Homo sapiens: one gene and its partners. The protein of the gene in region 1 interacts with the protein of each later gene in a biochemical or structural test. Each region holds a gene or a part of one and is shown on either strand. Other genes may lie near its edges. The genes, in order: PBK, FRMPD2, PDZRN3, SYNPO2, DLG2, CDK1 and PARD6G.

What was found.
Region 2: the proteins of PBK (region 1) and FRMPD2 interact in a test that uses a peptide from one of them, tested with the Homo sapiens proteins (one large-scale study listed by IntAct).
Region 3: the proteins of PBK (region 1) and PDZRN3 interact in a test that uses a peptide from one of them, tested with the Homo sapiens proteins (one large-scale study listed by IntAct).
Region 4: the proteins of PBK (region 1) and SYNPO2 interact in a test that uses a peptide from one of them, tested with the Homo sapiens proteins (one large-scale study listed by IntAct).
Region 5: the proteins of PBK (region 1) and DLG2 interact in a test that uses a peptide from one of them, tested with the Homo sapiens proteins (one large-scale study listed by IntAct).
Region 6: the proteins of PBK (region 1) and CDK1 form a complex in vitro, tested with the Homo sapiens proteins (2 studies listed by BioGRID and IntAct, with this or other methods).
Region 7: the proteins of PBK (region 1) and PARD6G interact in a test that uses a peptide from one of them, tested with the Homo sapiens proteins (one large-scale study listed by IntAct).

What each region holds. Positions count from the first base shown.
Region 1 is NC_000008.11:27,816,937-27,821,504, reverse strand, and holds part of PBK (lymphokine-activated killer T-cell-originated protein kinase), read left to right. Parts: intron 1-810; coding exon 811-940; intron 941-1,844; exon of another isoform or gene 1,845-4,568. UniProt on the Homo sapiens protein: Phosphorylates MAP kinase p38. Seems to be active only in mitosis. May also play a role in the activation of lymphoid cells.
Region 2 is NC_000010.11:48,180,156-48,184,723, reverse strand, and holds part of FRMPD2 (FERM and PDZ domain-containing protein 2), read left to right. Parts: intron 1-41; coding exon 42-158; intron 159-3,715; coding exon 3,716-3,921; intron 3,922-4,568.
Region 3 is NC_000003.12:73,386,775-73,391,342, reverse strand, and holds part of PDZRN3 (E3 ubiquitin-protein ligase PDZRN3), read left to right. Parts: intron 1-226; coding exon 227-325; intron 326-1,464; coding exon 1,465-1,527; intron 1,528-3,273; coding exon 3,274-3,375; intron 3,376-4,568. UniProt on the Homo sapiens protein: E3 ubiquitin-protein ligase. Plays an important role in regulating the surface level of MUSK on myotubes. Mediates the ubiquitination of MUSK, promoting its endocytosis and lysosomal degradation. Might contribute to terminal myogenic differentiation.
Region 4 is NC_000004.12:119,052,339-119,056,906, reverse strand, and holds part of SYNPO2 (synaptopodin-2), read right to left. Parts: intron 1-4,568. UniProt on the Homo sapiens protein: Has an actin-binding and actin-bundling activity. Can induce the formation of F-actin networks in an isoform-specific manner.
Region 5 is NC_000011.10:83,460,891-83,465,458, forward strand, and holds part of DLG2 (disks large homolog 2), read right to left. Parts: intron 1,204-4,568; coding exon 1,112-1,203; intron 1-1,111. UniProt on the Homo sapiens protein: Required for perception of chronic pain through NMDA receptor signaling. Regulates surface expression of NMDA receptors in dorsal horn neurons of the spinal cord.
Region 6 is NC_000010.11:60,788,478-60,791,914, forward strand, and holds part of CDK1 (cyclin-dependent kinase 1), read left to right. Parts: intron 1-3,412; coding exon 3,413-3,437. UniProt on the Homo sapiens protein: Plays a key role in the control of the eukaryotic cell cycle by modulating the centrosome cycle as well as mitotic onset; promotes G2-M transition via association with multiple interphase cyclins.
Region 7 is NC_000018.10:80,163,648-80,168,215, reverse strand, and holds part of PARD6G (partitioning defective 6 homolog gamma), read left to right. Parts: intron 1-4,568. UniProt on the Homo sapiens protein: Adapter protein involved in asymmetrical cell division and cell polarization processes. May play a role in the formation of epithelial tight junctions. The PARD6-PARD3 complex links GTP-bound Rho small GTPases to atypical protein kinase C proteins.

The DNA of each region.
Region 1 (4,568 bases):
GCAGATCACGAGGGCAGGAATTTGAGATCAGCCTGGCCAACATAGTGAAACCCCATCTCTACTAAAAATACAAAAATGAGCCGGGCATGGTGGCGGCACCTGTAATCCCAGCTACTCGGGAGGCTGAGGCAGGAGAATCGCTTGAACTTGGAAGGCAGATGTTGCAGTGAGCCAAGATCGCGCCACTGCACTCCAGCCTGGGCAACAAGAGCAAGACTCTGTCTTGGAAAAAAATAGTTAACTTATAATTATTTATTTTATAAGTATAAAAGGTTAGCAGAAGTATCTATTTCTAAATAAACTTTTAGACTTCTGGTCAGTATGGCAGACTGAGATAACATGGGATGTTCCCTTCTCTTGTTTCAAATACTTTGAAATGCTGGGCACAGTGGCTCATACCTGTAATCCCAGCACTTTGGGAGACTGAGGCAGGCGGATCACTTGAAGCCAGGAGTTCGAGACAGACCAGCCTGGTCAACATGGTGAAACCTCGTCTTTACTAAAAATACAAAAATTAGCCAGGTGTGGTGGTGCCCGCCTGTAGTCCCAGCTACTTGGGAGGCTGAGGCAGGAAAATCACTTGAACCCAGGAGGCGGAGGTTGCAGTGAGCCGAGATCGTGCCACTGCATGCCAGCCTGGGCAACAGAGTGAGACTCCGTTTTAAAAAAAAAAAAAAAAATTTTGAAACGCTGGACAAATGTAAACCTAGAGTTTAGGAAGGGAGTTCAAGTTGTTATATTTGGAGGTTATCACATTTTTTTATTAGTTTGTGTTTCTGCACATATGTGTTAAATTTTTTACTATTTTAGTATCTGCACCAAGAAAAGAAACTGCTTCATGGAGACATAAAGTCTTCAAATGTTGTAATTAAAGGCGATTTTGAAACAATTAAAATCTGTGATGTAGGAGTCTCTCTACCACTGGATGAAAATATGACTGGTAAGTTGTACTCTTAAGTTTTAAAATTTTGTTTTTAATACAGTGTTTACATTTTTAAATACGTAAGTCCACATGGATCAAAAATCAAAAACTATTTTTAAAAAGTATATGGTAAAAAGTCCCCTTTTTTTCTCTCTCTCCCAGTCAGCCTGCAGTCTTCTCCCTTGCCACATGTACAGTATAAATTACTGTATTATTATTAGTAGTAGTATTAGTATATATTTTAACTGGAGTTATCTTTGGGAAATATTTCTAACTGGATTGGGATCTTTAAGCAGTAAAGCATCTGGGAATAGAAAGTAAAATTTAGTAAGGTTGTGTAAAGCGGTTTATTTAGCATGAGTAAAGTGACAAGATTTAGGAAACTGGTAGAAGAAACTGGAATGAAGCAGAAAAGAGGGGTGCTAATGAAGGCTGGTCTTTGGCTCTTTGCCCTTTCTTCTCTATTGCATAGCTTCTCAGGGAATTTAAGATATGTTCTTGGTGAGAAACAAGAGCCAGCCTCAAGAGAAAGCCTCTGCTTGCAACATATTATTTAGTAAATAATACTTAAATTTGTCTCTTTATATCAACAGAAGTTAAACAAATGGTTAATAAATGCTGTTTAGAACATATAAATGCCTGAATTTCTAGCTGAAGTAAAAGTTTACAAGTTGAGTTGAAGGCAAGAGTCAGAATGAATGGACAGACTTTATAAATAAATGATGTCTGTAATCATTAATAAAAATAGAACTGTTGTGAAACCTTATGCTAAATAACTTACAAAATGGGAACTTTAGAAAGTAAAAGGATAAATTGTCAAACATAATAAAAATGAGGGTTTTTAAAGTATTTTTCTCAATGCTTAATAGAGCAAACAGACAAATGTAAGGATGTTAAAGATCTGAGTAAATAGTAAGGCAAGTACCTCTGCACCATAATATTTATTAAAATTGACCATATTCTTAGATCACACAAAAAAACTTCGAATTATAAAAAGTATGAATAGTCTAATAGGTGATATTCCTTAACATCAATGCTGTAAATCTAGAAATTTGTAATAAAATAGGAAACAAAAACTCCAAACTTTTTAGGAATTTAAAACACTTCCGAATAATTTTTGGCTAAAAAGAGAAATCAAATTCCATTTATAAAATATTTAGAAAATATAAGAATATAACAAGTCAAACCCTATTTGATATGTTCAAAACTACTCAAAGGAAACATTTTCATTATTTAACTTTTATGAAGTTAAGTTGAATATTCAACTGAAATTGAAAAAAATGACGCCCTAAGAACAGAAAGCAGAAATGAATGAATTTGATAGCCTATAAATTCTACATAATCTTAATGTGATCTATTCTAGAACATGTCAGAATTAATCTGAAGTTCCTCTTTGAGGATACATGTTCAATCAAACATGGCTGGGAAAACTCGATGAAAGGAGGAGGAATCTTCCTGAGCAGATAAAAAGTTTTATAAAGCTACAGTAATTAAAGCGATGATACTCATGCCAAAATAGGCAGAAAAATAGAACATGAGAGTCAGGAAATAGTTCCCAAATAGAGGAATTTGTTGTGTGATAAAGGTGACATTTTTGTATTAGTGAGAAAAGAGGTAGTTTAGTCAGTAAATGATGTTATCTGGACATTTTAGAAAAAAACACAGCTGTTTTCTATCCTTACACTTGAATCCCCATATATTGAAGATTGGGGGAAAAAGTAACAGTAGAAAAAATTGTAGATAAATAGTTCTTTAATGTTGGCTGTGGAGAGGACTTTAAAGAAGACACCAAAGCTAGAAACCATCATTAAAAAGCCATGGGTACCTCCATTTAAAAAAAAAGAATTCTATATCACAGTGGGTTGGAGAGGGGCAGGGAGCTTAAGACATTAGAAACTGAGATAAATGTATAAGATATTTAATATTTCTAATGCATTAAGAGTTATTAGTAATCAATGAGAAACAGATAAAAGCTCTATTATGAAGAGACTGTTGAGAAATGAAAAAAATGGCAATTAGGAAAATATATATGTAATGTTCTTACTAATGTTTTAAAAGCTAAATAACAATGAGATAATCTGCTATCAACACTCATCACACTGTGTAAATTATCTGTTAAACGTTTCTCCATTCCTCCATTAGGCTTGTAAGCTCTAAGAAGGGAACCTTGTATATCTTGTCCACTGAAATATCCTCAACTCTAGAATAGTGCCTGACTTGTAAATATATTATTGAAGGAGTAACAAGATTGCTAGTAAATAAAAAGATTGCTAGTATGAGCAACAATGTAGGTTAACATGTCCTCTCATACACTAAGTAGAACTTGTAACTGCTGTTTTACTGAGGTTAGAATAGGTTTTGCTGTGGTAACACAGACCTCAAAAACTTCAGTGACTTACAACAACCAAGGCTTATTACTCAAGCTGCATGGCCATTAGCACCTTGTTCTGTGTCATTCTCCCTTTAGGACTTATACTGATGGAACAGCCACTATATGGAACATGGCCACCATTATGGGGAGGGTGAAAAAGCATTGGAGTGGTACTGTCCAATACAGTAGTTATGAGCTGCATGTTGCTATTTACATTAATATTAAAACATTGAAATTATTTTCTCAGCCACCCTAGCCACAATTCAAGTGCTCAGAAGCTACATGTGGTTAATGGTTACCACATTGGACAATGCAGATTTAGGAGATTTAATCATCATAGAAAGTTTCATTGAACAATACTGCTCTAGAAAGTCTTGCAGTGATAGTTAAATGCTCAAGCTCAGAAATGACACAAGTCATTTCTTGTGGTAGAACCTTTCAGGTGACAGTTTGGAAAGCTGTATTTAAAATAAGAAAAACCTTTAAAAATGTTTATGCCCTTTGACCCTATAGTTTCATTCTTAAGAACACAGTCCAAAGAAGTAATTGAGTAATTAGGCAGTACAGGCATTTTTTTTATAATAACCTGATATATTATTTCCTGCAAAACTTCATTGCGCAAAAGTTTCAAGATATAACTAGGTTTATAGAAAAAAAAAACAGGGTTAAAACCTATGCAACTTTGAAAACTAAAGCAGTAACAAAAACAGTTAATAATCCTAATAAAAGATACTAACACATTAAATCTGCAAGGGCATAAACATTTTAAAATATTTTTCTTATTTTAAATGCAGATTTCCAAACTGTCGTCTGAAAGGTTCTACCAGAAGAAATGACTTGTGTCATTTCTGAGCCGGAGCAAGACTTTCTAGAGCAGTGCTGTTCAGTGAAACTTTCTATGATGATAAAATGTTCCTTTGTAGCCATAAACCCTGGGTTTATGCTGAAGGTTACATATGAGAGTATTTTCAATAGATACTTTTCATCAAGATGAAAAATTTGATCTGGCTTTCTCACTAAAAATATATATATATTTTTAAGCGTGTGGGAAATGTGTTGGCAGCTCCTTTACCTGGACTCACTCACAGCTTTTGTAGTTAGCAATAGCAATTCTTAAAGCTACTACACCAGGCATATGCTCAGGGAAGGCATTTCTGTAGGCAAAGGCTTTCTATTTGTGAGATTTGCCTCTGATCACTTCAAAAATAACATTTATGTACTGGGAAAAATATCAATCTTTTTACTGTTTCAAAAATACACATTGTAGCAGAACAG
Region 2 (4,568 bases), on another chromosome or scaffold:
TTATTTCCTTGAAGGATTATTGAGATGTTTTATTTTTCTAGGAGGGCAGATACTAGCCCTGAATCACATCAGTCTGGAGGGCTTCACATTCAACATGGCTGTTAGGATGATCCAGAATTCCCCTGACAACATAGAATTAATTATTTCTCAGTCAAAAGGTATGTTTTAACCCACTCTTGGGAGCTTAAGAGGCTCCCCTGTTTTCAGGAGTACATGATTACTGTGAGGTACTAGACCTTGAAGTCCACGTAGGTCTTCTATATTGCTTTCCTCATGGTGTTGGCTTGCAAAGAAGCAGTGTAGTGGCACAAATTAATAAGCTTTGCAATTTCAGGGGCAGAATGGGCGTTACCATGCTTGTCTTGCTGAAAGGGAGTAACCTACTCTAATTTTGTTAGACACGGCTGGATACAACCAGTCTTTTTTTTTCTGTCAACTCTCCTTGCATGGCAGGGAGGACCTTTTTATTGCCACCCAAAGTCCTTGTTGATAGGGTCGGCTCCAGGATTTCTATATTTTGTATAGAATCCTATACAAAATTTCTATATTTTGTATAGGTATAGCAATCAGCTGGGGAGGAGACAAGCACTGTTCTTTGTTAATCTTTTGTTTTGGGTTTAGGGCTACATGTGTAGGTTTGTTATTACAGGCAAACTCGTGTCACAGGGGTTGCTATACAGACCATTTCATCACCTAGGTGCTCAGCATAGTGCCCAATAGTTATTTTTCCTGATCCTCTCTCTCCTCCCATCCTCCTCCCTCAAGTAGGCTCTGGTGTGTGTTGTTCCCCTCTTTGTGATCATGGGTTCTCATTATTTAGCTCCCACTTGTAAATGAGAACATGCGGTATTTGATTTTCCTTTTTTTTTTTTGAGATGGAGTCTCACTCTTTCACCCAGGATGGAGTGCAATGGCACGATCTTGGCTTTCTGCAGGCTCCACCTCCTGGGTTCAAGCAATTCTCCTGCCTCAGCCTCCTGAGTAGCTGGGATTACAGGCACGCGCTGCCACACCCGGCTAATTTTTGTATTTTTTAGTAGAGACGGGGTTTCAATATGTTGGCCAGGCTGGTCTGGAACTCCTGAACTCAAGTGATCTGCCCGCCTCAGCCTCCCAAAGTGCTGGGATTACAGGCATGAGCCACTGCACCTGGCCTTTTCTTAAAGCTGAATTTTCGTGGCAAGCTCGCTCTTCTTACTTGATGTGCATGTTCCTGATCAACCTAAAGAGTAAAGTACTTTTTGATGATGCTTTTCTTCATCCTTTAGATAAGAATGAGAGAGCAACAACTGCCTATATTAAAGGAAAATACTATTGTTTTTATCGGGACCAAGCTTGAGGAGCCTGGAGGAAGTAATGGGAGTAGGCTAACATCCCTTCTCCCTAGTTTCCTGAGACCAATGCTGCTTTTTGGTTGGGTGATCCTGTAAACTAACAGCAGACCGCCTGCAAATTCAGGCTCATGATTGCTTCTTCACACTTGAGGGGTGTTGTACAGTTTTCCCTTGTATACAGGAGAACTTCCTGTCACACCAGCCAGCATTTTCTAGGTACTAAATGCAGGCACTGCATTTGCCTTGCCTTCTGAACACTTCTGCATGCATGCTCTCTCACTCTTGTACCTGTACACAGTGCCATGCAGCTCCCCTGTCCAGAAGCTATGGGTGGTGGAAGGTGGCCATGCTGGGGTCTCAGCCCCACACCCTTCATCCTGGGGTTGAAGCCTTCTCAGGGACTGGCCTCAGTACATCTCCAATGCCAGTCTCTGGCTTGCTGTCTGTTGGATTTCCCAGCACCACTGCTCTCCTTTCTGCAGTGGTTCAGCAATCCCTGTGTTTTCTTCCACATCCTCCACTGACAGGAGCAGTCAAACCATCCCATGTGTTGTCAGGAAACACAATGCAGGTGACCAAATCACAATTCAGCATAGTCCAAGGATGGCCTGCTGTGATGGAGGTTGTCAAAAAGCAGTACTCGAGGTCTGCTATTCTCAAACCACAACCTCACATTAGAATTCCAGACAATGAGTTTCCCACAATGGCTGGGAATAAAATGTCCTTTCACTGTGGCACCCCAGCCACCTTTTGGCAATGCTGCCTTCATCATGGTGGGGTTTCCTCATAGCTGGGCCACTGCCAGAGGAAGATGTTTCCTTGGTGATGCTGGCTGGGTCTCCGTGGCAGAGACTTGACTACCATGACTTTCTTCTATCTCTTTAGGCTGCTGTTAAGGCAGCTGGGCTAGATTGGAGATCAGGATCAGACAGATAAAATGTCCATCATGAGCATCTGTCATGGTCTACAATAAATTGAGTTTCCTTTACCAAAAAAGGTCTCCCAGCTCATATGTCTACTAGGCAGGACACCAGTTGCAGCATGGTTTGACTTTTCATTTCAATCGTAAGTCCCATCCTCACCTCTCATGGAGGATGTGGAAGAGAATGAGCCGATGCTTATGACACTGCCAGAAGGACAATGATGACAGAATCTGTGAATGAAAGGGCCAGAAATACAGCATTATGAAACAGTGGCCCTGCCACTCCCTGCTGGATACCTTTAGATTTGAATAACTTCAAATCAAATTCATTAAATCAGATTTATTTAAATTGAATTCATTCAGCATGTGAGTTTGGGCACTTCCCTGAGTGTTAATGAGTCTGTATCAAAAGTAGTAAATCTACTTGTATCCAGGTCTAAAGAAAATCTAACTGTTATTCATTCCTCCCACATATATTTGTGGAGCAGCTAATAATAACATGTTAACAGTAGATACATTTATTGAGGCTCTACCATGTACTAAGCTGTGCGTGTCTGTGTGTGTGTGTGTGTGTGTGTGTATGAGAGCCATATATATATATATATATATGAGGGAATATATATTCTTTCATATATACATATATATTTTTATCTTTCTTAACATATGTAAAATCTTTTCTGTACGTATAATCTCTAAGCCTCACCAACTCTACAATATTATTGATATTGATATTATCTCTACTTTAGATACAGGAAAATTTAGGTTCAGTTATGTTAAGCACCTTGCCCAAGGTTTTTCTACTGATTCACAACCTCACGTTCTTTTCTTTGTTCTATGCCAGGTCACGAGTCAGACACAGGGTGAGCAGGAATCAGTGGCCTAGCTTTCACTCACAGGGGCCTGCAGTTTGGTTATTACCAAGCCTCCCAAAAGGACCTGATACGTTGGTTTTTGGATCACATGGTGGCTGCAGATGTGCTCAGTGGGGTGTCCAGGAGAGGCTGGGTTTAAGACAGTTCCCACATGCTGGCTGTAGCATTTGGGGCAGGACACTTAATAGCTTTGACTCTGTTTTCTCATGTTTGAACTGGGATTACACCTTCCTGGTGGGTTTGCTGAGAAGATGGGAAGATGTCCATATCTTCCTATATGTATATCTAAGGTGCCCATCACATGGCTAGAGCTTAATAAGGGATAGCTGGCCTTATGAACTTCTTTTGAGCCTACGCATTCATAGTTGGGTCACGTAAGCTCTATCTAGGTTTCTAAATCCCATGTAGAATCTTCCCTTTCTCTAATCTAAATGTAACATCTTTCAGGAGGAGCTAAATTCATATTGTACCCGAGCAGCTATAAACGATCACTCTGTCACTGGAGGAAAACGCTGTGCCCACATAGAGATGCCACCAAGAAACCGGCCTTTTTAAGCTGTTGACTTTTTCTTGGCTTGTTTTTATAGGTGTTGGTGGAAATAACCCAGATGAAGAAAAGAATAGCACAGCCAATTCTGGGGTCTCCTCTACAGACATCCTGAGCTTCGGGTACCAGGGAAGTTTGTTGTCACACACACAAGACCAGGACAGAAATACTGAAGAACTAGACATGGCTGGGGTGCAGAGCTTAGTGCCCAGGCTGAGACATCAGCTTTCCTTTCTGCCGTTAAAGGTAATCATCCCTTGGTTTACTTTCTAGATCTGGATGAAAGAGAACAGACTGTGAAGCCCAACAGCCTGGCCCCTAGGCCCTTCCTGTTCTCTGTTTTCCATGTCAGGTGGATGGAAGTTACTTAGCCCCTTTGAGCCACAGCTTCCTCATTTGCATACAGAAGCAAATGCCTGCATGGCATGGTTGTTGAGAAAAACGCATAGAAGAAGGCAGAGTTCTAGGACAGTGTCTGGGCACAGGCTCAGTGTGGGTGCCTCTGGAGTCTTTAGTCACTAATTATAATTGTTGTGATAATAGCACCATGAGGAAATTGATTGCTGCCAATGGCAAGGCGTGGGCAACCAGGCACCTCCTATTCTTGTCCTTGAATTGGTCCTCAAGCTGGGAACTCAGTGGCTTTGCTCTTGACCATACCCCATGGAGGAAGAAGATGGGATCTGGAGTAGGTGTATGGAGGGCTGTGTGCTTCAGTCCCAGCTCTGCTGTCCTCTGCCGTCTCTTTGGATTCCCAGTGGTGTTGTCTTCTCAGGCCCCGCCAGACCCATGCCCCAGCCTCTCCATTCTGCTCTGGGCCCTGCACAGCTGGTGCTCATGGACTGAGTCACCTTGCTGTGTTCTGCTTGGTTCTGCCCAGTCGAAGCCTCAGC
Region 3 (4,568 bases), on another chromosome or scaffold:
ATAACTATTTTCAAAATGACTTTATATTGAGTGAAAGGTCAGAAATGCCGTAGGCATTGATCCTGTGTCCATAATCACTTTTTGTTTAGTAAGTTAACCGGCCCTACACAGTTGAATGCAAAGAAATCCAGTTCCTCATTTGAAGATAATATTTTTAAAGCATTTGACATCCCCTCAACTCGCATTGCCTGCTGGAGTCTCACTGGGAATGCCTTTCTTTGTCTAGGAAGTGGACCTCTACAGAATGAACAGCCAGGACAAGCTGGGCCTCACTGTGTGCTACCGGACGGACGATGAAGACGACATTGGGATTTATATCAGTGAGGTACAAAGGCTGATTTTGTTTTTCTAACTATCGTATCAAGACCAAAAGGGTTTTTTTTTTCATGTTCACCAACCCTAACCCACCTCATCAAGATCTCTTTGGAAAGACACAAATTATTCTGTCCCCCTCATCACACTCCATGGCGCTGCATCTTTCCACGGAGGTTAAGTTCTAATGCCAGTACTTATGGCAAAATTACCCTTGAGAAGCCTGCAAATCAGCCATAAAATGGAGCCGTTTACATGGTTTTGTGTGTTTAGCCCCAAGGGAAGAGCAGATTCACATTTCCCAACTCGTGTTCATTGAGTGGAATGGTGGATGGAATCACTTACACTTTTTAAAGCCTCTCTCTCTCTCTCTCTCACACACACACACACACACATTTTTTTTTCTCTTGGTGGAGTATATATAGTTGACTTCATATAAGTTAAATGTGACTTGTATGTACTTATCAAACTACATAGATGCACGCTGTTTTGATCTTCCTTGAGAAGATAATACAAATCAACTGATTTCAGTATGGAAACTTTACAGTGCACACCCATCCTTGCAAACACAGAAACCCAATTTTGTCAGGAAATAAAATTTGTCGCTACAGAATGATCTACTAGACTTAATAATTATCTCTTTGGTTGTATGTCATTCACCAAGCTTAAGTTAACCCATCCTTTCTGCATTTGGGGACATCCCTCCCCTTACCAGTCCCCCTTGTCCCAATTATATTTCAATTTTAAAGTTATTTTCCAAATTTTAATACAAGTATTTGGTATAAAATAAGGTATAGTTGCTAGTCCACATAATGAAGGGTATCCTTTAACCTGTTCTACATCATTGATTTGATTTTAATTACCATGCATGCAACAAAAGTCAGCTGTGCCTCCTCAGATCAGCAGAGCCTGCACACACTGCTGTGTAACAGGGTTGCTACACAGGGATCCAAGAACCAGCCCTAGAAAGGGCTTAGAAGCAGATCAGCTCATGTTTGCCTCTCCTTGCACGACACTAAGTCTTGTTTATTTCTGTGCAAAACAGAAACACAGGGGTGAGCATGACTGTGTTTTAGAAATGGTTTTGAAAGTGCTGTTGCTTATTTTCATGCATGTCTGCGTTTGCGCTGAGATGGTCCATGTGTGTTTCAGATTGACCCTAACAGCATTGCAGCCAAGGATGGGCGCATCCGAGAAGGAGACCGCATTATCCAGGTAAGTCCACTTCCAAACAATGGCCTCATGATGGGCCTATCACTAAAGAACAAACTGGTTCTAATGATAGGTCTAGGGTTGAAAATGCAGAAGCGGTTAAAGAACAGGGATCACAAACGCAGATGTGTAGTGAGGCCAGACAAGTTAAACTAATTGTGAGGCTATCTCTGAGTCATAAGACGCAAGAGGGAGTGGTGAGGACTGGGACAAACTAGATGGGGCATGTTCTCTCCAAAGAGGGCCTTGCAAAATTTGAGCCAGTTCTCCTTATTTTGTTTCATTCTGTTTGGATCAAAACAAACATCAGTGAGCCAAAGTCAGGCCAACAGTTTACAACTTGTGAACTAAAATAATTCTCGTTTTAGATTTCTCTGAAAGATTAACTTTGGACCAAGCATTTCAGAGGCTCGTCCATAAAAGGGGAACATTTTTGGCAAATTTAGCAGCATCGATTGAAAAGTCTTAGAAATTTTCTGACTCAACATCTAACCATCCTGGAATCGCTTCTAAGGGTCATTACTTGACCTCGAGCCCTGTTGCTCCGTCTAGTCCAAATGAGACCATTCATGTCTCTTTTGGCTACAACCTTCTTTAATCTCACAGAATTGAAATTCTTGGCTTCATTGTGTCCACAAGGCTTAGCTTTCTACCTCTTCTCATCCGTATCCTCTCATTCTTAATCCACTGTGTTTTTCTCATTGCATACCTCACCACAGGTCATTTTGATTTTCTTCTTCCACTGCCTACTCTGGGTTTCTCTAGCCTTCAGCCAGAACCTGTGCTGCTCAGGATCGCTTGCCCTAGGGAAGTGACCCAAACCTTCACACCTGAAGGGTCAGGGTCCTCAGCATACTGCCTCTTTTTTTTTTTTTTTTTTTTTTTTTTGATTGCTGGAGTTTTCCATTAACCTTTACTACTGAGAATGGAAGCACTCAGAGGTACTCCAAGGAATCCCCTAGGTTCCAGACACAATCCTCCCTGCCTCCACTGTGTCACAGCAAGCCCATCTTCCTTGGTAATTGAGGGCAATCACTCCAACCAATAGAGTCACCCCTTTTGCTGCCTGTTGGCTCACTAGTGTAAGGAGGCATATGGAAGCCTCCACTTCCAATTCAGTGGAACCATTGCTGTGTCCCCTGGAGGCGGCGTTCCACCAGGACTAAGACCTCCAGACCAGCAGGGCTCAAAGTCACCAGGACATGCAAGCAAAAATCCTGCAAGAGGGTTAATCAAGTGTGATAGTGAGAGTGTCACGCCCACTTGACCCTCCGCCTGGCCCAAAGAAGTTTAAGTGTCAAACTGGGGACACAAAACACCATGTATAATTCTATTCCATTTTCTTAACCTCAGTTTGCTGCTTTTTCTTCTATATTATCCAATAATGTCTACATATACTCCTGCCTGAATATTATGTCTAATTGCTTCCATGTTCCCTCTGCAGAGCATTATGATTTTTCTCAGTGCCGTCTTCTGGAGGTCCAGCCCCTTCTGTTCACACCCCACACATCACAGTCACCTCATGAACTATACTCATGGAGGCTCCCTTATAGACCAGAGAAACTGCATTGGTCTGAGCAAGACCTTTCCTTCCTAACATCAGTATTCTTTTCCAGCTACACGGAAGTTGTATGTTCTAACTGTGAGTGGGTGACAAATGCAGGTCTGAAATAAAATAGAATGATTTTGCACCATCTAATCATGCTATTTGTCTCCCCACTCTCCCCACCCCCCCTTTTTTTTTAAAAGATTAATGGGATAGAGGTGCAGAACCGTGAAGAGGCTGTGGCTCTTCTAACCAGTGAAGAAAATAAAAACTTTTCATTGCTGATTGCAAGGCCTGAACTCCAGGTAAATTGGCTTCCTACAGATGAAACTGGGTCTATATTTCTAAAATCAAAAGATCCCCAGGCCTGCAAAAGAGCACCTGAGTATTGGCTGCGAACTTGAAGGTGCTTTGTTCCCTGGAAATGTAATCAAACTTGCTGTGATTCAGAATTCACTTTATGAGTTAGCCATTTAAGGTTGGTTAGATGCCCACCCTGGCATCTATACTGCAGGCCCACGACGTTCATTAATGCAGGGATCATAGGGAAGGAAAAGGAAACAGAATTGAATGGAAAACACAACCGGGGTCACGTCAAGACATTTGACTTCCCAAGGCCTGACATATGTTCCAGCCTTGATCTGTGCAGGTTTCATTTACAATAGCAGAGTATGGGGAATTAAAACTTGCTCTTTCAAATTAAAAGAAACATTGAATGATAAATAATTAAAACTGATATGACCACCGAATAAGTGCTAGGCCCTCCGTGGAGCACTTTACACACAGGAGAGCCTTCCCAGGAGATGGAAGTTCCCAGAGATTCAAAAGTTACCCAGGAAAGGCCCAGAAGGAGGGTGATAAAGCAGGGAGGGGTTCAGGCCCAAGTAATCTGATTCAGAAACCTCTGTGTTGTAATAACTCCTTCCACAGGAGGAATCATGAACTCACCCAGGTGGCACTCTTGATCCACTTAGAATGGCTCCAGCAACACATCTAGGGCAATCCAGTAGTAGATCTCTTTAGGTATGTGTATTAGTCCGTTTTCATGCTGCTGATAAAGACATACTCGAGACTGGGTAATTTATAAAGAAAAAAGAGGTTTCATGGACTCACAGTTCCACATGGCTGGGGAGGCCTCACAATCATGGTGGAAGGCAAAAGGCACGTCTTACGTGGCAGCAGGGAAGAGAGATGAGAACCAAGCAAACGGGGTTTCCCCTTATAAAACTATCAGATCTCATGAGACTTATTCACTACCATGAGAACAGTATGGGGAAAACTGCCCCCATGATTCAATTATCTCCCACGAGGTCCCTCGCACAACACGTAGGACTTATGGGAGCTACAATTCAAGGTGAGATTTGGGTGGGGACAGCCAAACCATATCAGTATGAAACCCGATTGAAAAAGCCGAGAGACAGACAGTGGCATACGGGGCATCTGATTCTCCACAGATGGGAGCCTCATGAGCTCAAAGGGAACTTCAGCAATCATCTCA
Region 4 (4,568 bases), on another chromosome or scaffold:
GACTTTTAATCTGTTATCTAATGTTGGTCTAGTGAATGAATATAGCAAAAACAAACCAGAGCTTCTTAGATGTAGTTAACATTACTGGTATGATTAACTGCCTGGCCCTTTTCCGCTCAAAATCTATTTATATGGTGACGATCACATGGATTTTTATTTCCTGAGTGGAGTGTATTGCCTTTGTCTCTGAGGGAATTACTCCTGCCTCTTGTTTAATTTGCATTTTGCTTCCTTTCATGTGTATTACATTCCTATTTCTTTGAGAGTTTGTATCCCTGCAACATTCCTCTGTGTATACTTAATATTCAGCTTGACTAATAACACAGGAATATTATTAATTATTATTATATAGAGTTGGGGTCTCATTCTGTTGCCCAGGCTGGAGTGCAGAGCATGATCATGGCTCACTGCAGCCTCAAACTCCTGGGCTCAAGCAATCCTCCTGCCTCAGCCTCCCAAGTAATTGGGACTACAGGTGCACACCACTATGCCTGGCTAAATTTTTAAAAATCTTTTTTACAGACAGGATCTCCCTGTTGCCCAGGCTGGTGGTATTAGACTCCTGGCCTCAAGCCATCCTCCCACCTCAGCCTCCCAAGTTGCTGGGCTTACAGACATGAGCCCCGGTGCCTGGCTACAGCAATATAATTTAATGAAACCTCTTGTGTTCTCATTCTCTCCTTTTACTCCTCTGCATTTCTAGGAATGCTGATGGCTGGCTATCCACATTACATCTTCACACATTCCAATATGCATGAGGCTGTGTGAGATAAGCTCTTGGCAAAAACGCAGAAAGGGTACACCTAGGGGACAGGAGTATCAACTTTGAAAGTATCAAAACATCCTGTTTCCTAACAAAAAACATTACCATGCTTAAAAATGTGCTCTAATTTCATAAACAGTTTCAACAGCTTTTCTCTTAATCAAGTTCTTAACTTTAAAGTGAATATCAATACCTGGATTTAGGCAAAATATCTCAGATTCAAATGTTTCGTTTTTTTTTTATTATTAGGTACACAAAGAAGGTAGATGGTTCATTCCTGGTTTCTATCTGAAGAATAAGGGGTCCAATATAATAAATCTTGATTCTCTCATTTTAATCATTTAAATTTTACTTACAATGGTTGAATCTTAGCAAAAACTTGCTTTCACTAATCTTGTCTTAATTCAGAACCACTCATAATTCTCCTTACTCTATATTTGGGTGAGGTGTGGGGAATCCTGACTTTTAGTCACCTTTAAGGCCTTAGTTTCTATTTCACATTATGTATGTGTTCATTTCATAGACTCATTTAACATAAATTAACATATTGTACACCTAATATTTCCAGGTATTCTTCTATAAGCTGAAGACTTAAAGATGATAAAGTCCTTGCCCTCAATAAGCACACAATCCAGTACTAGTTTTAGCCCCACAGTAGCTGAATTAAGTCAATTACAGAAGACCAGTTTGGGCCAGTGCAGTGGCTCACGCCTGTAATCCCAACTCTTGGGGAGGCTGAGGCAGATGGATCACTTGAGATCAGGAGTTCAAGACCAGCCTGGCCAACATGGTGAAACCCCATCTCTACTAAAAATACAAAAGAATTCTCCAAGGTGTGATGGCATAGGCCTGTAATCCCTGCTACTCAGGAGGCTGAGGCACAAGAATCACTTGAACCCAGGAGGCAGAAGTTGTAGTGAGCTGAGATCACACCACTGCACTCCAGCCTGGGTGACAGAGCAAGACTCTGTCTCAAAAAAAAAAAATAAATAAATAAATAATAAGAAACAAGATCAGTTTAGAGAAGATAGAGAAGAGACTCTTTAACTGTCTTGACAGGAAAAAATAGGAAGTTTTCTAAACTGTGAGAAGTGGTAAGACTCAGTGTGATAAAGAGAAATGTAGCTGTCTGTTGTGGTGTGTGTCTGTATATCACTTTTGTCCTTTCTGTGGAAGAATTAGAACAACAGTGGTCTACAGAGGCCCTGGGAGAGTTTTCAGAGTCCCATGATTTTGCTTTGTGTGGTCTTTGATTATGATAGAGGCAGGAGGCAGACAAATTCTAGGCAGACAGAGGTGGATCCCTGGTGAAACCCCACCTTCAAGCCAAAATAGTCTGAAACTTACAGCCCAAAGTGAGAACTTCTATTCCTGTTTGCCCATTCTCTCCTGATTGGTTCTTTGTGAATAGTGTCTTTTTACCAGTGGAATGTTGCTTTTTCCAAAACTACCTGCGGCCCACCCCACCCACACCGTGTGCCTATTATAAAGACCCCAGACTCAGTCGGTAGAGGGAGAGATGGCCGGACCTTAGAGGAGACGGCCAGACTTCAGAGAGACAGCTGGACTTCGAGGGAGATGGACAGACTACAGAAGAGATGACCTGACTTCAGGGGAAGACAACCTGCCCATCCTCTTCGCTGTCTAGCTCCTCTCTCCACTGAGAGCCATTTTCGTAGCTTAGTAAAATTCTCTGCCCTTCAGTTGTCTGTGTGACCTCATTCTTCCTGGACGCCGGACAAGAGCTTGGGACCCACCGAGTGCAGGTACCCAAAAAGGCCATCACACCGGCCCTTTGCCCTCACGGATGAAGGGCAGCCACCCCACACAATGAGGCAAGAGGCCAACTGAGCTGCTAACAAACCACCGTCTGTGGACGGCAGAACTAAGAGAGCACTGTAACGCTCCCTCTGGGGCTTTGGGGTCGCAAGCACCCCCACCTGGGCACCGCTGTGGGCCACACATGAAGTCTGCTCCTGCTGGCGCCCGGAGTGGCCAGCCAGATCCCACACTCACTCACTCATGTGCTCCCTCCCTCAAGGGGTTGAGCACAGTGAGCTGAGTAAACAGGGCACCCCTGTTGCAAGTCTGGCAAAGAGGCTAAAAAAAATCCTGCATCAATTAGATGTAGCACCTTGAGGGACTGCTTTAGTCAGTTATTTAGGTATTTTAAAAGATAGAAGGCTGAGGGGATGGCAATAGATAAAGGGAGCTAAGACTTTACAGAAATCTCGGTGAGGCCCCTGAACATATATACAGGTGTTTAATTTACTGGCTAATAACTGGAAAAAGAAATAATTATCAATATACTTGGGAGTATTAAGTACTATGTGAAAGCATACATTGCAGTGATAAGACATCCAAAACATTACATGAAAGAGAGGAATTATTTTTTGGTGTTTCTCTTATGCACTGAGTTTGAAAATATTCAGAAGAATTGAAACTTGACAGAATTTATAAAGTTCAAAATATTGTTCAGTGATATCCTATTAACAAAGAGATGAATATGCAGGGAGAAAACTAAAATATTGAGGTATGGTATTGAAAGAGTAAGCCAGGGCTTTCTGAAGGGAAATTAAAACCTAGGATTGAAGCTGAAAGCAAAAATCTCACGCCAAACATGCATATGACAAATGTAACAGCAGTGAGGAAAGAAGAGCAACCAGCTCAATGAGCAAAATGACCATGGCTCTTCTACATTTCCCCAGACTGACGAACATGCCTTCACATTCTTTCAAGTGCTAGTAATAGAGGATAAGATGATAAACCATTTTAGGTTAGAGATCCAACTGGGATATAAATAAATCATTCCATAGGTACAATGTAGTTTCTGTTTGTGTCCAAAATATTGCAAGCCTCTAGCCTCTACTGGCACCCATACTTCTAATTTTAATGTATTTCCCCAAAGCAATTTTCACAGTGTTTTTTGGTGCTGTTTCCTTCTGTCCATCACAGTTTCAAGGCTCAGGCTGTTCTCTGTTTGGCTGGCTGAATGAAGCCATGTGATATACCCTGAGCCAGAAACGACCAAAGGAACCTGAAAGTAACAGAGGTGTTTCTTTTGTTTTGGAGTTTGAATGTCTGACGCTGGAATCCTAGCATAGCATGGATTAGGTCCTGGGTTGTCACTTCCACCATGGGTTATATCATCATCAAGGGAATTTAATATTTTTATATGAGAGCACTTAACTGTAACCAAGATGTTAAATTAGCTTTACCCATCAAATTGCTTCTTTCTGTCTCCCACTACCTTTTAAACTTTATTTAATAAAAAAAAGTTTTCTGCTGCCACTGGAAGAAAACTTAGCAGATCCTGGGACATTTTGCTTACTTTTAGGAAGAGTTCAATGGTTACCTTAAGTTACTCAAACCAGTTTTATTTTGAAATAGATGATGCCATCCCCTGAAATAACAAACTCCAATTTCAACTTTATTAGAGTTAAATCTCCTCTCCTTCCCCAGCTGGGGCCTGCTTCAGAAAGGCTGCCTTCCTTCAGGGAAGGAGTGTGGTTGACTTCTTCACTCTACTTCCACTTCTTCTCTCAGGTCGCTAACTCTGCCTTCTGGCCCCCTGGGGTTGGAGGAAAAAAAGGAGTAGAATAAAAGAGGAGAAGAAAGTTTTTACTTGATTTGGCAACATCATGTTCTGGCCTCTTACTCTTGGGGCCAGACAGGCCCAGAGAGGGACATTTTTATGGGATATTGAAAGATTCCCATCACTGGGGACATCTTACCTCTAGTCCTTGATTCATGCTAATTCTTCTCTGTTCTAGGGAGTGACTTTGGACTCATCCTATATGCTCCC
Region 5 (4,568 bases), on another chromosome or scaffold:
TCAAGATATTTACAAACTGCTAAGGCACTGACACTTTCTATATTCTGAATAAGGTAAAAAATAAAACATCTAACTTCACATATGGTAATCCAGGAAGAAAGTTCTTGGGTTTTTTTTTTTTTTTTTTTTTTTTTTGAGACAGAATTTCACCCTTGTTGCCCAGGCTGGAGTGCAGTAGCACGATCTCGGCTCACTGCGACCTCCACCTCCTGGGTTCAAGTGATTCTCCTGTCTCAGCCTCCCTAGTAGCTGGGATTACAGGTGCCTGCCACCACACCCAGCTAATTTTTTGTATTTTTAGTAGAGACGGGGGTTTCACTATGTTGGCCAGGCTGGTCTCGAACTCCTGACCTCAGGTGATCCACCCACCTCAGCCTCCCAAAGTGCTGGGATTAGAGGCATAAGCCCAGCTCGAAAGTTCTTGTTTTTAAACCTCCGGGAACCAGGTGTAAGGCAAATTTCACAAAGTCTGATTACTCAGTGTTCTATGAAAGTATATAGGAATACAGAACTCAGAACTCAGGCTCTCCAGAAGAAAACCTCTATTCCCCTTCATGTTTCCAAGGAAACATTTAAAAAGAAAAAAAAAGCAGTTTTGGTTGAGACTTGACACAGTGAACTGAAACATGAGGAAGTTTTAAGCATCTTGTTCAGGTGCTGCTGATAGGGACACTGATGAAAGCTCATGGAGCTGGGGACGGACGCCTCCAAGCTTCTTCTCAAGAGTAACTGCTTTGGACACTGACCATTTTGAGCCCTAAAATTTTGTTTTTCAAGTTTTCTGATGATATCAGGGAGATAGTTTAATGAGGTAGCAATGCCTCAAATCCTTTTCATGGTAGGAGATAGCTCAGGGGTATCTCCTGCCCATGGTTTTGGGTAGGGCTGGTGGGAACCTGGGAGCTGGCTGCAGCTGAACTCTCAGGAGAACCCAGGGTTTTACATCAAAATGGGTGAAGCAGAGGGATACTCCTTGTATATGAAACAGATATTAGGGATTCTCAACAGGAAGGTTTTAGGGCACAAGTACACCAGGCCCAGAACCCTCTCTGTGCCAAATGTCAGACAATTTATCCCCTTTCTCACACTACCAGGGTAAAAGTGAACTTACCTGTAAAATATTCTCCAAATTCTTGTTCTAGCTTAATTGCTCGATCATAGGTTTTCTTGGCTTGTTCCTCTGTTAGACGCTTATTCATCTCCCTGGGAAAATGAGGGTTTGTATTAGAACATAAAGGGAATATTCCAAATCCTAAAAAATTAAAATGTATGGCAAAAATAAATCCTACAGAAAACATAGTGTAATCTTAGCAACAGGTTTTTAGTCTTCATTCAGGACTCCTCTGTGCTGGAATAATTTCAGCAACAAGGACTCACGGCCAGAAAGCTCATTCTCTCAAAGGGCAGTCTCTTGGTCCCACATTGGATTGAAGCCAAATATGTCTCCTTATGATTTGTAGTCACTGGTCCCTGTTCTGCAGGGACCTAATATCCTCCATGGTAGGCCCTAGGATATTTAAGTAAAGTGCTTAAGTGTGTCTTGAGGCTTCTACTTCTTCAGAATAAACTGTCCTATTGCTTCATCTATCCCCTCATTGGATGTGATTTCTAAATCTGAACTTTCCTGACCACCCTTTCTTGGAGTTTGTTCTAGTGTATCTCAGACTTTCTGAAATGTGAGAGTAGAATGGTAGTTATCAGAGACTGGGAAGGGAAGGCAGGAGGGGAGATGAAGAGAAGCTGGTTAAGGGGTATAAAATGCAGTTATAGGAATATTTCAAAATAGCTAGAAGAGAAGAACTGTAATGTTCCCAAAACATTTCTGGTGATGGATATTCCAGTTACCCTGATTTGATCATTACACATTGTATACAGGTATTAAAATATGACATATACTCCAAAAATTTGTACAACTATTATATATAAATTTTTTTTAAAAGGCTCAAGGATAAATCAAGGTGGGAGAGAAATGAAAAATTCTTGAATTCTCTCTAAAACCTAATCTATTGATTCTTAACTACTGGCAGCTTTATCTTTCCGGGTCTTCCAGGTGTTAAAAAAAAAATGTCCTGCCAAATGCAATTTGGTTGGCTGATCAGGATGCATCACAGGTGCATGTAGAATTTCTGAAATCATTACCGTCTTGCATGCTGCTTAGGAAGCCAGAGATTTGGGTCTGGAACATCTGGCCTTAGTCAATTCCTTTCGAGAGCAAGTAACAGAGGCAAGAAGGGATGTGCTTAAGGCTGTGTATTTAACGAAGAGTAATCTGGGGTAAGAACTCAAGGTTTTGGTTTTTTAAACCAATTTTCAGTTAGACTTCCTATTATACCAAGACTTGATATCTTTCAAAAGAGGCTATTTGGAAAAAAAAAAAACAATATATTGACATTAGACATTAATGGCTGAAATACAAAGTAGTGAGAATTTCCTGAACTCTTGTTGCTAAACTCATCTTGTCCTGAGGGGTGTTATGTATAATTTTTCTTCCAAACAGTCTCAGCTGTACATGCTGTGAATGGATGTTACTCGTGGGTGGAGAAGATGCTGGGCTAAACCAAGGGACACTCTTCAGAGAAAGATAAATATTTGCTCCAGATGTCAAGAAATCATGTGGGCCAGGCACAGTGGTTCACGTCTGTAATCCCAACACCTTGGGAGGCTGAGGCAGGTGGATCACTTGTGCTCAGGAGTTCAAGACCAGCCTGGGCAACAGGGTGAAACCCTGTCTCCACAAAAAAAATACAAACATTAGCTGGGTATGGTGGCACATACCTTTAGTCCCAGCTACTTGGGAGGCTGAGGTGGGAACATGGCTTGAGCCCACGAGGTCATGACTGCAGTGAGCCATGATGGCACCACTACACTCCAGCTTGGGCTGGACAGAGCAAGACCCTGTCTCAAAGAAAGAAATCACATAGTTCTGGATCATCTTCGACCTGCCTTCCAAGAATTCTGTCTTCTCTGAATTCCCTTTTTACTGATTACAGCAATGACTTAGTTTAGGTTTTTATTCTCTGACCTGTGAATTTATTTTGTCTCCTTGACTGATCAGTAATTCTTTGAGGGCGAAGACCATGGCTTGTTTGTCAGCATGTGGCATGGAGACTGATTCAACATTTATTTGTTGAATGAATAGATGAGTAAATGAATGAATGAATGAACAAATGGGGAGCTAGATAAACATAATTATAAGATAGTTGAAGACAGAAGTAAACACAGAGCATCATGGGAGCAGGAAGGTAAAAGCAGATTGGAAGTGGCAGGGTGAAGGGAGATTGCCACATGGAAAGGGAACAGAAGTCAGATGGTGGCACAATATAAAAAGAACATCCCTTTCATACACATCTTTGATTTTATGCTCCTCTGAAGAGTCAGCTATGTATGTGCTAATAAGCTCTGTGATTTGATGTGGATGATGCACTTGAGAAATAATGTGTGTGATGATGTATCAATGTGTAAATGTGACAGCTGTCATGCTTTTGTTCCGGCTGACCTAGCATTCACTACTCTCTGGGGAATGGGCAATTCATGGCAGCTTTGCTCCTGGAGTAAAAGCCTTGGAAAAGAGTGAACTGTAAAGTAAACATCCAACCTTTAGTAGGTAGATTGCATTGGTCTGAATGTCACCATCACTGCACTTGAGACCCATGAATATGGCTGCAGCAAATTATGTCAGATTCACTGTCCTTATTGTGAAGTCCAGCCTTTAGTACATTTAACTTTCCTTGGTGATAAGTGGCTGTGACAGTGCCCTAAGGCATAACTAAAATAAGTCATCTCATAGTTGTGGAAGGCAGTAGACCTTCTCCTATGGAATGCCAGATGGGACTGTCTCCTAATATTGCACCGGACCAAATGTGCCACTGCTGTCGTTCCCTCAGGCCTCATTCCCCTGGGAAGCCATTTATCCCACTGAGTGTTTACAATATGAAGATTTATTTTTCTATTTCTGAAACAGGCCTTTAAGATGGCTGTTCCCAGGAAGTAAGGACTATTTTTCTTCTCATTAATGTTAGCATTACTTATATTTATGAGGCTCTTGACAGATTATAAATCAATTTTACATCATGAAATTTGTACTTGCTTAATTCACTTTGTGCAATGCCCGACATAGTATCCTATACAAGGAGAAATTTAATACATGCTATTGGGGATGATAATATTAAGAATCATTATTTTATCATTAGTACATATTTTTCCATGTGCCAGCCATGGGAAAAACTCTTTATATTATAATTTAATACCTAAATTCATGGGGCTGAAGGTACTGTCAGTGACCTCCCGATCTTACTTTTTTTATCCTGGTAAGAATCCTTGTCCATTTTTTATATATGGGACTATATTCTGCTTTCAAGGTACATCTCTGGCTATTTCCCCAGAGCTCAACTATGTATTTAACTTAATTCTCTCAGGCTGCCACTCCAGCTGCTGCAGTTTGCTTTGCTTCTTTGTCTTCAGAGGAGACACAGAACAGTTAATATCCTCTGTAAGCAATTGCTTTCACCACTGGGATTAAATAATTTCTGTTTCTTCGGTCCTTCCATAAACATTATTTTCCAGTACTC
Region 6 (3,437 bases), on another chromosome or scaffold:
AGGAGTTTTCCTAGCTACAGTTTTTACATTTTCATTATTTTTTACTTTATTTATTTACATCATTCCCATCCTTTGTTGTACTTTAATTCTTTATATTAAACTCTCCCCATTCAAATCACCACCTTGGTTTCTGTCTCCTGACTGAACCCTCCCTGATTATAGTCAGATTGATTCAAAGACAGGTTTTGTTCCTTAAGGTATATTATTTCTGATACATTTAGGAATTGCTAACTATAATTTATGTTTGATCTGTGTTATATTGCTGACTTGGCATTTAGTGTTTCTGAAGGAAAGGGAACATTGTATAATAAAGGATTATTGAAAGGCTGTCTTCTGTGGAGTTGTCTACCCTTGACCCAAAGACTGTCTCCAGATCAAAACTAGTAACAGTGCTCATCTGATTAGATGTCTTGGCTGCTTGTTAGTCTTTATCATTTTTTTACATGGCTATATAAATAAACTAAGATTATTTTGTTTTCTTTGTCTTAAACAAATGCTATTGACCTCATTAGCTTTGTTCTAACAGGCAATATTTTTACCATATGATAAATATACTAAAATGGTTGGTTAGTTCTAGATCACTAATCTGTTATTTGACTTATTCACGTTTTTTAAATAATTTAAAAATCATTTTTTATCGACGCATTATTATACATATTTATGGGGTACAGTGTGGTATTTGGATACATGTATGCAATGTGTATTGATTAAATTGGGGTAGTTAGCATATCCATTGCCCCAAGCATTTATTATTTCTTTTTGTTGGGAACATTCAAAATTCTTTGTTTGGGCTATTTGAAAATTTACAGTAAATTATTGGTAACTGTAGTCAGCTTACAGTGCTGTAGAACACTAGAGCTTATTTTTCCTTTTGAGCTGTAATTGTATCCATAAACCAACTTATCTCTGTCTTCCTCTACTAAGCCCTGAATAACCACTATTCCACTCTATGGCCATTAGATCAACTTTTTACGTTTTCAAATATGAGTGAAAACATGTGGTATTTATCCTTCTGTGCCTGGCTTATTTCATGGCTCATCCTTGTTGTCATAAATGACAGAATTTCATTCTTTTTTTATGGCTGAGTAGTATTCTAGTATTCCATTGCGTGCACGTATGTGTGTGTACACTACATTTTCTGTATGTGTGTATGTATACACCACATTATCTGTTGATGGAAACAGGTCGATTCTGTATCTTGACTATTGTGAATAGTGCTTCAATAAACATGGGAGTGCAGATATCTCTTTGACATAATTGATTTTATTTATTTTGGACATATACCCCCAGCAGTGGGATTGCAAAATTATATGGTAGTTCTAGTTTGTAGTTTTTTGAGCATCCTCTAAACAGTTTTTCATAATGGCTCTACTAATTTAAGAGCCCACCAACAGTGCGTAAAAAGTTGCCCTTTCTCTGCATCCTTATCAGCACTTATTTTTTGTCTTTTGATGATAATTACTCTAACTGGGTGTGATAGCTCATTGTGGTTTTGATTTGCATTTCCCTGATGAATAGTGATGTTGAGCACTTTTTCATATACTTGCTGGTCTTTGTATGTCTTTTGAGAAAGTTTTATTCAGATTGTTTGACCATTTTTAAAATTGGATTCTTACTATTTTTTTTATTCTGGATGTTAATTCTTTGTTGTATGAATGATTTGCAAATAATTTCTCCCATTCTGCAGATTGTTGCATTATTCTGTTATTCTGTTCATTCTGTTTCTTTTGCTGTGCAGAAGCTTTTTAGTTCGATATAATCCTGTTTGTCTATTTGTTATTGCTGAGACAGGGTCTTTCTCTGTCACCCATGCTGGAATGCAGTGGCGTGAACAGGGCTCACTGCAACCTCAACCTCCTGGGCTCCAGTGATCCTTCCACGTCAGCCTCCTGAGTAATTGGGCCCATACACAGGCATGCACCACCATGCTAGGCTGATTTTTAAATTTTTTAGAGACGGGGCTGTCAGCATATTTCCCAGACTGTTCTCGAACTCCTGGGCTCATGCAATCCTCCCGCTTTGGCCTCCCAAAGTGTTGGGATTATAGGCATGAGCTGCTGCACCTGGCCTCATTTGTCTATTTTTGATTTTGTTTCTTGAGCTTTTGAGGTCTTATCCATATGATTTTTGTCCAGATCAATATCAATAACAGTGTTTCCTCTGTTTTCTTCCAATAGTTTCATAGTTTAAGGTCTTATTTAATCCATTTTGAGTTGATTTTTGTGTATGGTTAGATATAGGGGTTTAGTTTCATTGTTCTGCATGTGGATTATCCAGTTTTTCCAGCACCATTTATTGAAGAGATTGGCTTTTCCCTAGTGAATGTTCTTGTCATCTTTCTCAAAAATGAGTTGACTGTAAATACATGGATTTATTTCTGGATTCTCTATTTTGTTCTGTTGGTCTCTGCGTCCTTTTTTATACTAATATCATGATGTTTCGGTTACTATAGCTTTGTAATACATTTTTGAAGTCAGGTGATACGATGCCTTCAGCTTTGTTGTTTTTGCTCAAGATTGGTTTAGCTATTGTGGGTCTTTTTTGGTTCTATATGAATTTTAGGATTTCTTTTTATTTCTGTGAAGAATGTCCTTGGTATTTTGATGGAGATTGCACTGAATTTGTAGATTGCATTGGGTGGTAATATGGTCATTTTTATATTAATTCTTCCAGTTCATGAACATGGGATGTCTTTTTTGTATCTTCCTAAATTTTTTTCTTCAATGTTTTATAGTTTTTAGTGTAGAGATTATACATCTCATTTGTTAAATTTATTCCTAGGTTTTTTGTACCTATTGTACATTAGATTGCTTTCTTGATGTTATTTTTCAGCTAGTTATTGGTGTATAGAAACTATTAATTTTTGTATGCTGATTTTGATTTTGTATACTGCAACTTTGTTAATCAGTTCTAAGAGTTTTTGGTGGAGTCTTTTAAGTTTTTCTATATATAAGATCATCTCTGCACACAGGGACAATTTGACTTCTTCCTTGGCAATTTGGATGCCCTTTATTTCTTTCTCATGTTTCTTATTCATGTTATAATGGTACTGTTAGTACCATCTTAGCAAGTAAGCAGTACCTGCACTTTGTTCAGTGTCACCCCAAATCTATTATCAATGGGTTTGGTTTTTCAGTGGGGGGAAGATAAGGCTGTATAACTGTCTTGATCTTTAGTGATTTGAAAAGCAAAAAAATATTTATTATGCTTTTATCTGTTTTGTCTTCTAATGAATAGAACTTAGAAATGAAATATTTATCTTCAATTTTGTGTACCTTTAATTGACTTAAACAATATTATTGGTGGCAGTCATACAACCTTTAAAGGACAGCCCTAATAAAAATATAAATGTTTAAGTGTAGGTAATTTTATGCACCACATTTATTCATTGTAAAAATTTGCTTTTTAATAGGTAGTAACACTCTGGTACAGATCTC
Region 7 (4,568 bases), on another chromosome or scaffold:
CCTCCCACTGCAGACAGGCTGAGGTTGTGTGTTCTCTCACCTGAGCTGCAGCTCACTGGAAGCAGGCGGGGTGGTTGGCACCAAACGCACCCTGGGCCCTTGGATGCTGGGGAGGGGGTTCAGGGTGCAGACCACGGCCGGCCCATCTCTTCAAGAGTTCAGGAAGAACCAGAGTCGCATGCACTTGCTGGCCCTCCTCCAAGTGGGGTGTCGGCCCGTTTCCTCCACGGAGCCACTGGCTCTTTTGCCCCCTGCCTATGAACGTGTTCATCTTTCAGCTTACACAGCCATTTGACAGTGGTAGACATTACTTAGCTCATCAACCTCCTGTCATTCAGAATTAGTTTATGAACCCATGGCATCAACCTCACCTGAGTGTCCTTGAGCTGCACCCCAGGCCCAGGGGTTCAGAACCTGCCTTTGTACAGGGTGGTCTGTGTGCCTGCTGCTGAGAGGTGCTGCACCATGAGGGGATACACTCCCTGCTGCTCAGAAATCCCCTGGGCGTTCATCTTAGGCCATGTTCCCATGGTCGTCCTCCCTACGTGGCTCAGAGCATCAGAGACGCTGGGGGAGGAAGAGAGGACAGGCCTGGGTACATCTCATGGCCCCAGCTCCACCCTCTGCAGCGCCTCCTCCCAGGACCCCAAGTCTGTCTGGAAACATGGTGGAGCGTTGCTGCTGCCTTGCCTGTCATGGGGGTTACACAAAAGACCTTCCCTGTCCAGGCCATTCCGGGGCCCTGAATCCCTGAGCCTGTGTCCCTGTCCCCAGGAGTACCTGCTCCAAGCTTGCTGCCCTGAGTGAGCTGCTGCATGAAGAGCCGTGCCCTGTCCTCAGCACTGCCCATGTGTTATCCTGCACACACATCCACACGCAACACTGCCCATGTGTTATCCTGCACACGGGTCCACACACAACACTGCCCATGTGTTATCCTGCAACACGTCCACACGCAACACTGCCCATGTGTTATCCGGCACACAGGTCCACACACAACACTGCCCACGTGTTATCCTGCACACACGTCCACACGCAACATGATGCTCTCAGGCAGGAACCACAACAGAGGACCCACAGCAGGGATGTGACCTGTGAGGCCCAATGGGTGTCACTTGTAATTGTGAACTGTCACTGTTTTGATTGGCCATTGTCTTGCCCTGAAAAGTGGTAATTATTCCATACGGTGACACACGGAGCCCTGCACCTTTAGATGCGCTGAAACTCCCTTGGAGCACAGGGCCAAGGCCAGAGGGGTCAGCATGGGATGTTAGGGTCTGGCCAGCACGACTGAGATCAAAGGGGGCTCTGGTTTGTTGGATCCTCAAGTGTTTGCAGTTGTGGGGCCCCAAAAGAGGTGGCTGTGGTGTGGAGAAGGGGCCCTGAAGGGACTTCTGTGAGAACAGCCCCCTTATGGTCGGGGGAGGACCAGACCTTCCTGGTCTGCAGGGAGGGCTATGCACTCCCCTGAAGTTCCCCGGGAAGGTGGACATGGGGAGTGAGGACCCTGTGGACTGTCTCGTGCTCTGAGGATGTAAGGAGCCAGGACAGGATGAAAGGGGCACGTACCTCCCCTGCTTGTCTGACGCTCTCTACAGAGGACATTTACCAGAAACTTGAAAATGCTGCTGTAAAAAAGCTGCCACGGAGCTGTTGTGTTTGGGGCAACTAGATCTGACCATGGAGGAGGCTGTAACTGATCGCTTTCAATGAACTTGACGCCTTTAAATTCTAAGGGAGGTGGAGATTTTCCACTGAGACAAGGCGTCCTGATGCCCCCATGACCGAGGGTCACACCAGCAGTGTCTGCCATGGCACACGTGCCCCAGACTGTGTCGCCTGCTTAGCAGAATGCAGTGGGGCTGCTGAGAGAGACACTTGCAGCCCTGCATCTGGGCCTTTGTTCTGCTTGGGGTGCGGCAGAGAGGAGGAACACACTCATGATTGGGGTGGTGTGCTGTGTTGGTGCCGACCTGACCATACGGTGTCCATGAGCTGAGGCTGTGTGCCGCTGACATGACTGCCTTCATCTCAGAAGGAAAAATACAAGGGAACAGTCACATTTGTTTACAGGTCCAAATGGTGACAAAGTGGTAGCTATGTTAGGAAATAAGCGGAAATGATAATTTTTTTTTTTGAGATGGAGTTTTGCTCTTCTTGCCCAGGCTGGAGTGCAATGGCACGATCTCAGCTCACTGCAGCCTCCGCTGTCTGGAAGCGATTCTGCTGCCTCAGTCTCCCTACTAGCTGGGATTACAGGTGGATGCCACAACGCCCAGCTAATTTTTGTATTTTTAATAGAGACAGGGTTTCACCATGTTGGTCAGGCTGGTTTTGAACTCCTGACCTCAGGTGATCCACCCACCTTGGCCTTCCAAAGTGCTGGGATTACAGGTGTGAGCCAGCGCACCCAGTGGAAATGATAAATTATGTTTTCTGGCAACTTCCTGGAGGTTAACAGTTCAACACCATGTTTTTTCAAAACAAACCTTTACTAAAATTTTAGAGGCAAAGACATATCCATTGCGGGAAGTCAGGGACCCTGAATGGAGGGACTGGCTGGAGCCACAGCAGAGGAACATAAATTGTGAAGATTTCATGGACATTTATCAGTTCCCAAATAATACTTTTATAATTTCTTATGCCTGTCTTTAATCTCTTAATCCTGTTATCTTCGTAAGCTGAGGATATACGTCACCTCAGGACCACTGTGATAATTTTGTTAACTGTACAAATTGTAAAACATGTGTTTGAACAATATGAAATCAGTGCACCTTGAAAAAGAACAGAATAACAGTGATTTTTAGGGAACAAGGGAAGACAACCATAAGGTCTGTCTGCAGGGTCAGGCAAAAAGAGCCATATTTTTCTTCTTGCAGAGAGCCTATAAATGGACATGGAAGTAGGAGAGAGATCACTAAATTCTTTTCTTAGCAAGGAATATTAATATTAATACCCTGGGAAAGGAATGCATTCCTAGGGGAGGTCTATAAATGGCCACTCTGGGAATGTCTGTCTTATGTGATTGAGATAAGGACTGAGATACGCCCTGGTCTCCTGCAGAACCTTCAGGCTTACTAGGGTGGGGAGAAACTCTGCCCTGGTAAATTTGTGGTCAGACCGGTTCTCTGCTCTCGAACCCTGTTTTCTGTTGTTGAAGATGTTTATCAAGACAATATGTGCACTGCTGAACATAGACCCTTATCAGTGGTTCTGCTTTTGCCCTTTGCCTTGTGTTTGTTGGATGCTTATCAGTGGTTCCGCTTTTTCCTTTTGTCCTGTTCCCTCAGAAGCATGTGATCTTTGTTAGACCGTTATTAGTACGTCTGCTTTTTGCCTTTTGAAGCATGTGATCTTTGTACCCACTCCCTGTTTTACACCCCCTCCCGTTTTGACACCCTTAATAAAAAACCTGCTGGTTTGAGGCTCAGGTGGGCATCACGGACCTACCGATAGGTGATGTCATCCCTGGTGGCCCAGCTGTAAAATTCCTCTCTTTGTACTCTTTCTCTTGCTCAGCTGGCTGACATTTATGGAAAATAGAACCTACGTTGAAATATTGGGGGCAGGTTCCCCCATTACATATCTTCAAAAGGTTTAATTTGAGGTTGGCTAGGATTATATTTTACATTATTGTTAGGTGGGTAAACAAGGCTCCCCTCTGCTCAAGTCCTTGAAGGCCCAGGACCCCCCAGTTTCATCCTCTTACTATGGGCATGACATTCAGTTGTGACGTGAAGAGCAGTGTGGACCCGGTGGAAACACCCAACCATGAAAGTTAAAAGCTGGAGCCTTTTAGACACATGGAGAGCACATCACAGAGGCAACGCCCCTCACAGGTTGGAGGGTTTGGAGTGCAGGGGAGGGATTTGCAGTAGTTGGGACTTGGCCAGGAGGAGGGGCTGTTAGGATGGCCCCTAAGTGTTTTGAGGGAGGAGAGGCCCACTCAAGACTGTGGGGCCCATGGACAAAATACAAAGGCCAGGTCCTCACTCCCTGCTTAGTCTCTCTGGCACCAGAGCCAGGGGCTGTTGGGCACCCATTCTAGCCTTGAGGAGGTGAGGGTCCAGGCTCTGTGTGTGGGGTGCAGCAGGTGGGGTAGTTATTGTCCACACGTGTTCCGTCCTTTTAGGCTGCCTCTTTCTGATCTTTGTACAGACAGAGCAGACTTTTGATGGGGCTTTTTGGTCTATGCCTGTTGGTGCATCCAGGTTGCTGGTGCCTTCAGCTCCAAGTCTGGGATGACAAGGCTAAAAGAAAACCCAAGGAGCTGCTGCCATGTTGCTTCTCCGGTCCTGAGGCCCCAGCTAGTGCGACTTCTCTCCTGCGTCATCTTATATTTGTTGTTTTGTATGTAACATCCAGGGTTTTTGTTGAACTTAGGAGGGATGGGAAGAACTACATGACTTCTGGGAAGCAGAGGTCCACACACTTGCTTTTATTGGTGCAGGGAACCCTGGTCTACCTAAGTGATTTATAAGCCCCTTACGAGGAGGGGCCCGGCCCGCTGTGCCCTTCTCTGTATCCTACAGTTCTGGGCTTGAGCCTCAATCCAGTCCACCGTGCAC